2 linked regions of the Homo sapiens genome follow. The protein of the gene in region 2 purifies or fractionates together with the protein of the main gene of each other region. This does not show direct contact. Each region holds a gene or a part of one and is shown on either strand. Other genes may lie near its edges.

Region 1 (3,645 bases), on a different chromosome or scaffold from region 2:
TCAGCGGCTGAGGGCATTATGCCTGTGGGCCCCTCACCTGCTGTGCACGACAATGGCAGCCTTGGGCAGCCCGGTGGTCCCCGACGTGTAGATGTAGAAAAGACGATCTGCAGGAGATACAGGTGTTAGGGGTGGGGCCTGAGCATTGGGGGGTGGGGCCTGGAAGTTGGGGGCGGGGCCTGGGCGGGTAGGAAACCAGTTGATAGAGCAGGGGTCCCACCCTTGACTCACCGTCCATGCCCTTGCTGGGGATCTGTGCCAAGGGGGCAGTAGAGGCCTCCTTCAGCAGCGGGTCCAGGAGGTGGGTGTCCGGCAAGATGCCCTCGGGCCCCAAGTCTCCAGAGCAGAACTTGATCAAACTTTTCCCCAGATGCCCGCTCACTTCGGCCACCGCTGTGGTCCCCAACACATGGGTCATGGTCACCGCCGGACAGGCCCCCTCCCGAGGCCTGGGATGCACCAACTCCCTGCCCGGGGCATACCCAGACCGTGCACCTCATGCCCACGTCCAGGGCGGCCGCCTTCCGAGGCCTGGGGCGCAGCATCTCCCCGCCCGCCCAGGGGCCAGTCCTGGGTCCCCGCCCACCTGATGCCCACGCCTGGCCTCACCCGCCACCATTTCTCCTCCAAAGATCAGGGCCTTAGCGCCCGAGGTGCCCAGGCAGAAGGCCAGGGGCTCGCGCCGCAGGTTCACGTTGAGCAGCGCGGCCTCCATGCCCGCCTTGGCCAGGCCCAGCCACAGCCCCACGAACTCCGGCCGGCCCTCCAGGAAGATGGCCACCACGTCGCCCGGCGCGAAGCCCAGCTGGCGGAAGAGGTTGGCTACCGCATTGGAGTAGGCGTCCAGCTGCGCAAAGGTCCAGCACTCGCCGGTCCCGGCATCCACCAGCGCCAGGCGCTCGGGCTGTCGCTGCACTACCGCCTGAAAGATGCGCGGGATGGTGTGGCCGGCACGCTGGTGCCGCCGCAGCTCCAGGCGCACGCGGATCAGCACAGAGAGACCGCTGGGAGGGAGGACGGAGGGGACAGCGTCACTGGTGCCCTGCCCCGCCTGGCCTCTGGGAGCCTCAGCCTCCCCGCTGGAGGACCCCAGGGCAGCCAGGGGCTTTGATGAGGTCTATGGTGAAACTTTTGGTGGCTGGATCTCTCAGTGGACCAAGGGCAAGGGCCATTTACCAACCAGCCAGGAAGAAGGTAGATTCTCAAAGCGTAATAAACCAGTCACCCTGTCCTCCCCCATACCCCAGCTGGCTTGGTGGCCCTGGGGGAGCTGGGGCCTGAACCCATCCTCCTTTCTGTCCCCTGCGACGTCTGGAGCACCTGACACCATCCCCCAGCACCTCCAGCCTGGACTCTTCATGCTCAGACCACCCTAACCAGGACCCCCAGGGTCCAGCCCCGAGCTGGGCAGCTGTTCTGCCCCCAGGTCACTGGGTGGCACCAGGGACAGATGGCTGAAGCATCTAGCACGTGTGCCCCCAACTGGGGAGGGATTGCCCCTGCCCCAGGTAGGGCCAGGAGATGTGCCAGTGGATGGGGGGTGTAAGGACCAATGCCAAGCCCAGATGGAGGGTTCCAAGTTCCCCTTCCCCACTCGCTAGTAGATATAACGGGCAGAGGCCCCAGGGAACTGCAGAGCCCCCAGTGAAAGGAGCCGGGTTCCTGAATGATTGTGTGGAGGCAGGCGGGCCACCACTTGCTGTTAGATGAATGAGAATGAACTGTTTTTTTGTTTTTTTTTTGAGACGGAGTCTCACTCTGTCGCCCAGGCCAGAGTACAGTGGTGCAATCTCGGCTCACCCTCCGCCTCCTGGGTTTAAGCAATTCTCCTGCCTCAGCCTCCACAGTAGCTGGGATTACAGGTGCCCACCACCACACCCGACTAATTTTTGTATTTTTAGTAGAGACGGGGTTTCATCATATTGGTCAGGCTGGTCTCAAACTCCTGACCTCAGGTAATCCACCAGCCCTGGCCTCCCAAAGTATTGGAATTACAGGTGTGAGCCACCATGCCCAGCCAAGAATGAACTTTAAAAACAAACAAACAAACAAACAAACAAACAAACAAGAAATGCTTTAGGCCAGGCGTGGTGGCTCACACCTGTAATCCTAGCACTTTGGGAGGCCGAGGCGGGTGGATCATGAGGTCAGCAGATTGAGACCATCCTGGCTAACACGGTGAAACCCCGTCTCTACTAAAAATACAAAAATTAGCCAGGCGTGATGGTGGGCGCCTGTAATCCCAGCTACTCCGGAGGCTGAGGCAGGAGAATTGCTTAAACACAGCAGGCAGAGGTTGCAGTGAGCCGAGATCACGCAAATTCACTCCAGCCTGGGCCAAAGAGCAAGACTCCATCAAAAAAAAAAAAAAAAAAGGAAACAAAAAGGAAATGGAAAGGAAAGGAAAAGTTTAGATCACAGAAGCTGGAAATTCAGATTTTCTTGGTTGAGAAGCTGGAGAAATGAGTGGTCCCCACCCCTTCCTGGCTCCCTGCCCCACCACCCTGCGCCCCTGGCTCTGGGAACCAATAACCTTGTACTGGGGTAAGCCACTGGAATGTGGGGTGTGTTTGTTGTAGTACCTGGCCCTGCCCAGCCCTGACCAACACAGGGCAGGGGCTCCACCCACCTGCCCCTGTTTCAGCCTGGCCCGGCCACTGCCTCCCTCCAGCTTCTGCATCAAAATCACCAAATCCATCCTTTGGATCTCCCCTGCCTTTCCCAGGCCTCCCCAGATCCCTGCAATGGCTGCTCACACCCCCCAAAATGTTCACAGTGGACTTCAGCACCTATATTCATTCATCCTCTCGGTCATTCATTCATGCTCTTCTTCGTTCTTTCCCTCTTTCATTCCCTCCCTCATTCTCTCCTTCATTCATTCCATCATTCATTCCATCTTCATTCACTCATTCCCTACTTCACTCACTCTTTCCCTCCCTCCGTCATTCATTCTTTCCCCCCTTCACTCATTCAGTACTTTTTTTTTGAGACAGGGTCTCACTCTGTCGCCCAGACTAGAGTCCATGATCATGGCTTACTGCAGACCTCCCAGGCTCAAGCAATCCTCCCACCTCAGCCTCCCTAGTAGCTGAGACTACAGGTGCACGTCACCAGGGCCAGCAAAATTTTTGTATTTTTTGTAGAGACAGGGTTTCACCATGTTGGCCAGGCTGGTCTCGAACTACTGGACTCAGGTGGTCCTCCCTTGGCCTCCCAATGTGCTGGGATTACAGGCGTGGGCCACCGCATCTGGTCTCATTCCATCCTTATTTATTATCTCCTTCACTCTTTCATTCCCTCCTTTGTTCATTTATTACCTCTTTCATGCATTTATTCCCTCCATCATTCATTCCCTCCTTTATTCTTTCCCTCCATTTATCATTTACTCCCTCTTTCATTCATTCATTCCCTCCTTCCTTCATTCATTCAGGCAGCTGGTGCATACCAGTGTCTGTTGTGCTTTAGGCACTGTTCTCAGCTCTGGGGACAGAGCATCCAGACCACCAGGCCCCACCCTCTGGGGTTCACAGTCCTCTGGGAAGAGAGACCCCTTCCATGTATATGACTGAATACCAGGCCGTGCTGGATGGTGACAAGACTGCAAGGGGTGATGTGGTCAGTCACACGGACCAAGGGCAGAGGCAG
Region 2 (3,745 bases):
AGGCAGGTCTAATGGAGATGCCCAGATAACAAAATGTGCTTCAGTGCCCTCCCCTACTCCACCCAATCTTTCACCAAAGTAGATCCCAGAAAGCTGAACTGACTGGTTTGCATTTCATACCAGCCCTTCCTACATTCCATGATGTAAATCCTTGCACCCAGTTTAAAAAAAAAAAAGTTTTCAAGATCTGATAACAACATGGGGAAATGTTCCTGACATGATATTAAGTGGCTTGGTTAAAACCATTCGCTAGAGTACAAGTTCTCCTAAGGAACAAACTCTAAGTCAAAAACATGACAGCCAGGGTCACTGCCTCCTGGAAGACACAGCTCCCAGCCTGTGGATGGCAGAGCCGACGGAATGGGGTCTCCAGGAAGCACTACCACAGAGAACATCCCTATCCCACTGCCCAGTGCAAAAACATTTTTAACAGCATGAACAAGGGCAAGTCCATTCATCCATTGATGTCCCTAAGGACATCAAAGGACACAGGGAACAGAAAAGGACTCAAGTGAGAGAAGGGGCTGTCAGAGGCTACTGGCTGGATACATGGGGCAGCTCAAGCTGCTCGCCCCCGAGACAGGGCAGCAGCTGGGTTCCTCTTCAAGGGCTACGAGCAGCACCCACACCAAGAGGGGCAGATAACCACAGCGATAATCACACAAGAAGCAATGCCAATGCCTAGGTCACAGTTAAAGTGTGGTACAGCTGCAGGGTGGGTTATTGCAACCACTAGGACATTGTAAGTGATTCTGATTAACAGAAGGGAAACCTCGATGTTACATTAAGGGGGAGAAAACAAGATTCATAACTATATCTACAGCATGTCCTCAATTGTATCTATGCAATGTGTATAAAGAAAATGATCAAGAGATATACTAAAATGCTAATAGGAAGGTATCTTTGGATAGTCGATTTACCAGAAATTTTTTTCATTTGTCTATATTTTCAAAAATTCCATAATTAGCAAGCTTTATTTTTGTAACAAAGGTGGGCGGTGTAGGCGACCGTTAGTTACTAAAGAAAAATCCATGTCAGAGAGGCTCAGCAAACAGAATACAGACTTAGAAAGAGGGAGAGGGGCTTCATGCAAGACACACACGCAGACCAGGACAGCTGTGATGACTTCCCAGGGTCTACCGGATTTGTACTTGAATCCAGGGGTCAAGGCATCAGCTAAGGAAAACTTAGGCATGCTTCCTCCCACTTCAGTTTCTCCAGCTCTAGGTAAGGGAGGTGGGGGTTGGAAGAGTTGCTATTCCTCGCTTGGGAAAAGCTGCGGGGGGTGCGGGGCGGGGGTTGATTTCAACTCTGCGCGATTCACTGAGGACCTCAGTTCTACCTTGGAGGACATGCAGGGTCCTCTCCGCTGCCTTCTAAGCATGCCAGGCTCAAGAGTTGCTGCTATGTGGGCTCCAGAGCCTGGGCGAGAGGATGGATGTGGGACAGAGGACAGGGCAGACACACCTGTTCCAGTCGGGCATGTTCCCCGTCTGGTGGCTGTCTCAGGAGACGGCAAAACCCATACCATCCTGCCCATCCAGTCTATCACTGCCAAAGCTCGCTCTACCTGGTGAAGGGAGAGGGGAGGGAAGTGCCAGGGGTCACCAGCCGCAGTGGGGGCTGGGGAGGAGTTCTCGAATATCCCTAATAACTAAGAATGGTGGGTGGTACCGCTCCCACCTCACGGATGAGGGAAACAAGCTGGGGGGCGGGTGGAAAGCGATGTAACAGAGGTCGTAAAAATTGATGAGTGCCACAGTGGAGAATGAACGTGGACTCATCAGTACCCACCAGCCTGCCACAGGGCCCTTTCCAGAAAATCTTCTCGCAGGTCCATAACCCCTGCGCCGTGGCACTCACCCCATCTCCCAGACCCCTCGCGCGACAGCGCAGGTCCTCCGTGAGAGCGCTGGCTCCGGTCAGCCTCGGCCTGACGCTCGCCGCGCAGGACCCCGGAGTAGGCGGCTATGAGGGTCTTCATGGCTGAAGCCCGCCCAGTCACGGCCCCGCGGGAAGCCGCTTCACCCCGCGCCCCTGGCCCATGCCCCGGCCCCCGGGGCCAGGGCTTCGCGCAGAGCACAGGGGTCCCGGGACGGCGTCGAGGCTGGGCGGCTAGGACACCTGGAGCTGCGGCCGGCGGCCAGTGGTGGCGCGAGAGAAACAGCCTAGACCCCAGCAGAGGCGGCAGCCGCGGCGCTGGCGTCCCGGAGCGCAACACTTTATCACCTCACAACGGGGCAGGCGCCGACGCGGCGGGCGGGGCGGGCCGTTCTAAGCCGCCGCCCGCGCCACTTGCTTGTGGGGGAACCGCACCTGAGGCTCTGCTTGGCGCGGGCCCGGGGCTGGCCAGCAGCCTGCTCCGCGCGGATCCGGGGAATGCGTGAGAGGAGAGCAGCTCTGAGCCCTGCTTCCAAGGGGCGCGCCCGGTTATTCCCCTCGCTCCCTCAGTCCGACCCCGGGCGCTCCCCCGCGGAGATTGGTACGGCCCGGCGGCCAGTACCCGGGCGGGGAAAACCAAGCACGTGCGGTGCAGGCAGAGGGCGTGCAGGGGGTCGGGCCTTTACTCTTTAGGAGGGGCTGTCTTTTGGCAGCAAAGATGCGAAGGTCCCGCTTTTGGTCACTGGTATCAGGATTAGTTAGGTTAGGGCTGGGTATCTCAACCACCCAAACTGCTTCTGGCTTTCCATCTCTTTATTAAGAAACCTCACAGAGCACCTATACCCTGCTGGGTGCTGGGGACCCAGCCAGATCAGCCCAGGTTCTGCCCTTGGGATGCTCACGCTGGGGGGCAGCAGAGACAGCCGCACACAGTCACTGGTGACAACGGCCGGGACAAGCGAGAAACCAGGGGGCTATGGAACCACAGAGTAGAGAAGACTCTGCCCTGGGCTGGGGGAGTGGGGGCGCTGGTGCACTTCCCAGAGAGGTTGGTGCACAGCAGGTTTGGAATCAGATAGACTAGGAGTCCAGTTCTTGCCCTGCCTCTCTTGAGCCTCAGTTTCCATATCTGTAAAATGGGAATAATAATTATTATTTTTGTGAGGTACTTTGAGAAGTAAATGAGATAAGGTATAAAAAGAGCCTAGGTAGTGTCTGGCACATAGAAAGCATTCCAGAATGGTTTGCCCATTAATGAATAGGAATTTTGCAGATGGAAGGTGTGAGGGCAAAGCAGAAAGATAGGCATAAAGTGTTAGAAAAGCCAGCATGTTTGGGGCAGGGCTGGGGGCCCTGGAGTGGCTGGAGCCCAGGCAACTGTGGAAAATGAGGCTGAAGTGAGAGGCGCGGGTGCTTGAACTGAGAGAGGTTTGGGAGTGCCACTCTTGAGATATTGGGGGGGAGCCGGGTCTTGGGAGAGCTTTAGTAGGGAAATGGCTGGTCAGGTGGGTTTTAAGTGTCCTTAGCCATGGTATGGGAAATGGACAGGAGAGGCTGTAGGTCAGGAGGGCAGTGGGGAGGCTGTAGGGGCGGGGGATCCATGTGAGAGAGGATGAGCCTCAAGGCACGGCAGTGGTAGAGGGAATGGAGGGAAGGCCTGATCTAGGGAAGAGCATAGGAAGCGAGATCCACCAGCATGTGGTGGAGCGACTTGTTGGATGGAGGCTCAGGGAACGAGTGGGGACAACAAGCATGTCAGTGATAAGACAGATTTCTTAGGCATAGCTGGAGCGAGATAGCTGTGGGGTCACAGCATAAGAGGAGAGGAATTCCCTGCCTTTGTGGTCTTTATCATGTTCTCACA

What was found.
Region 1: the proteins of DGAT2 (region 2) and SLC27A1 purify together in Homo sapiens (affinity purification with western blotting, with the first as the bait; one study listed by BioGRID). This does not show direct contact.

Annotation. Positions count from the first base shown.
Region 1 is NC_000019.10:17,483,922-17,487,566, reverse strand, and holds part of SLC27A1 (long-chain fatty acid transport protein 1), read right to left. Parts: intron 1,005-3,645; coding exon 610-1,004; intron 394-609; coding exon 232-393; intron 108-231; coding exon 38-107; intron 1-37. UniProt on the Homo sapiens protein: Mediates the import of long-chain fatty acids (LCFA) into the cell by facilitating their transport at the plasma membrane.
Region 2 is NC_000011.10:75,767,231-75,770,975, reverse strand, and holds the start of DGAT2 (diacylglycerol O-acyltransferase 2), read right to left. Parts: upstream 2,199-3,745; 5' UTR 1,985-2,198; coding exon 1,864-1,984; intron 1-1,863. UniProt on the Homo sapiens protein: Essential acyltransferase that catalyzes the terminal and only committed step in triacylglycerol synthesis by using diacylglycerol and fatty acyl CoA as substrates. Required for synthesis and storage of intracellular triglycerides.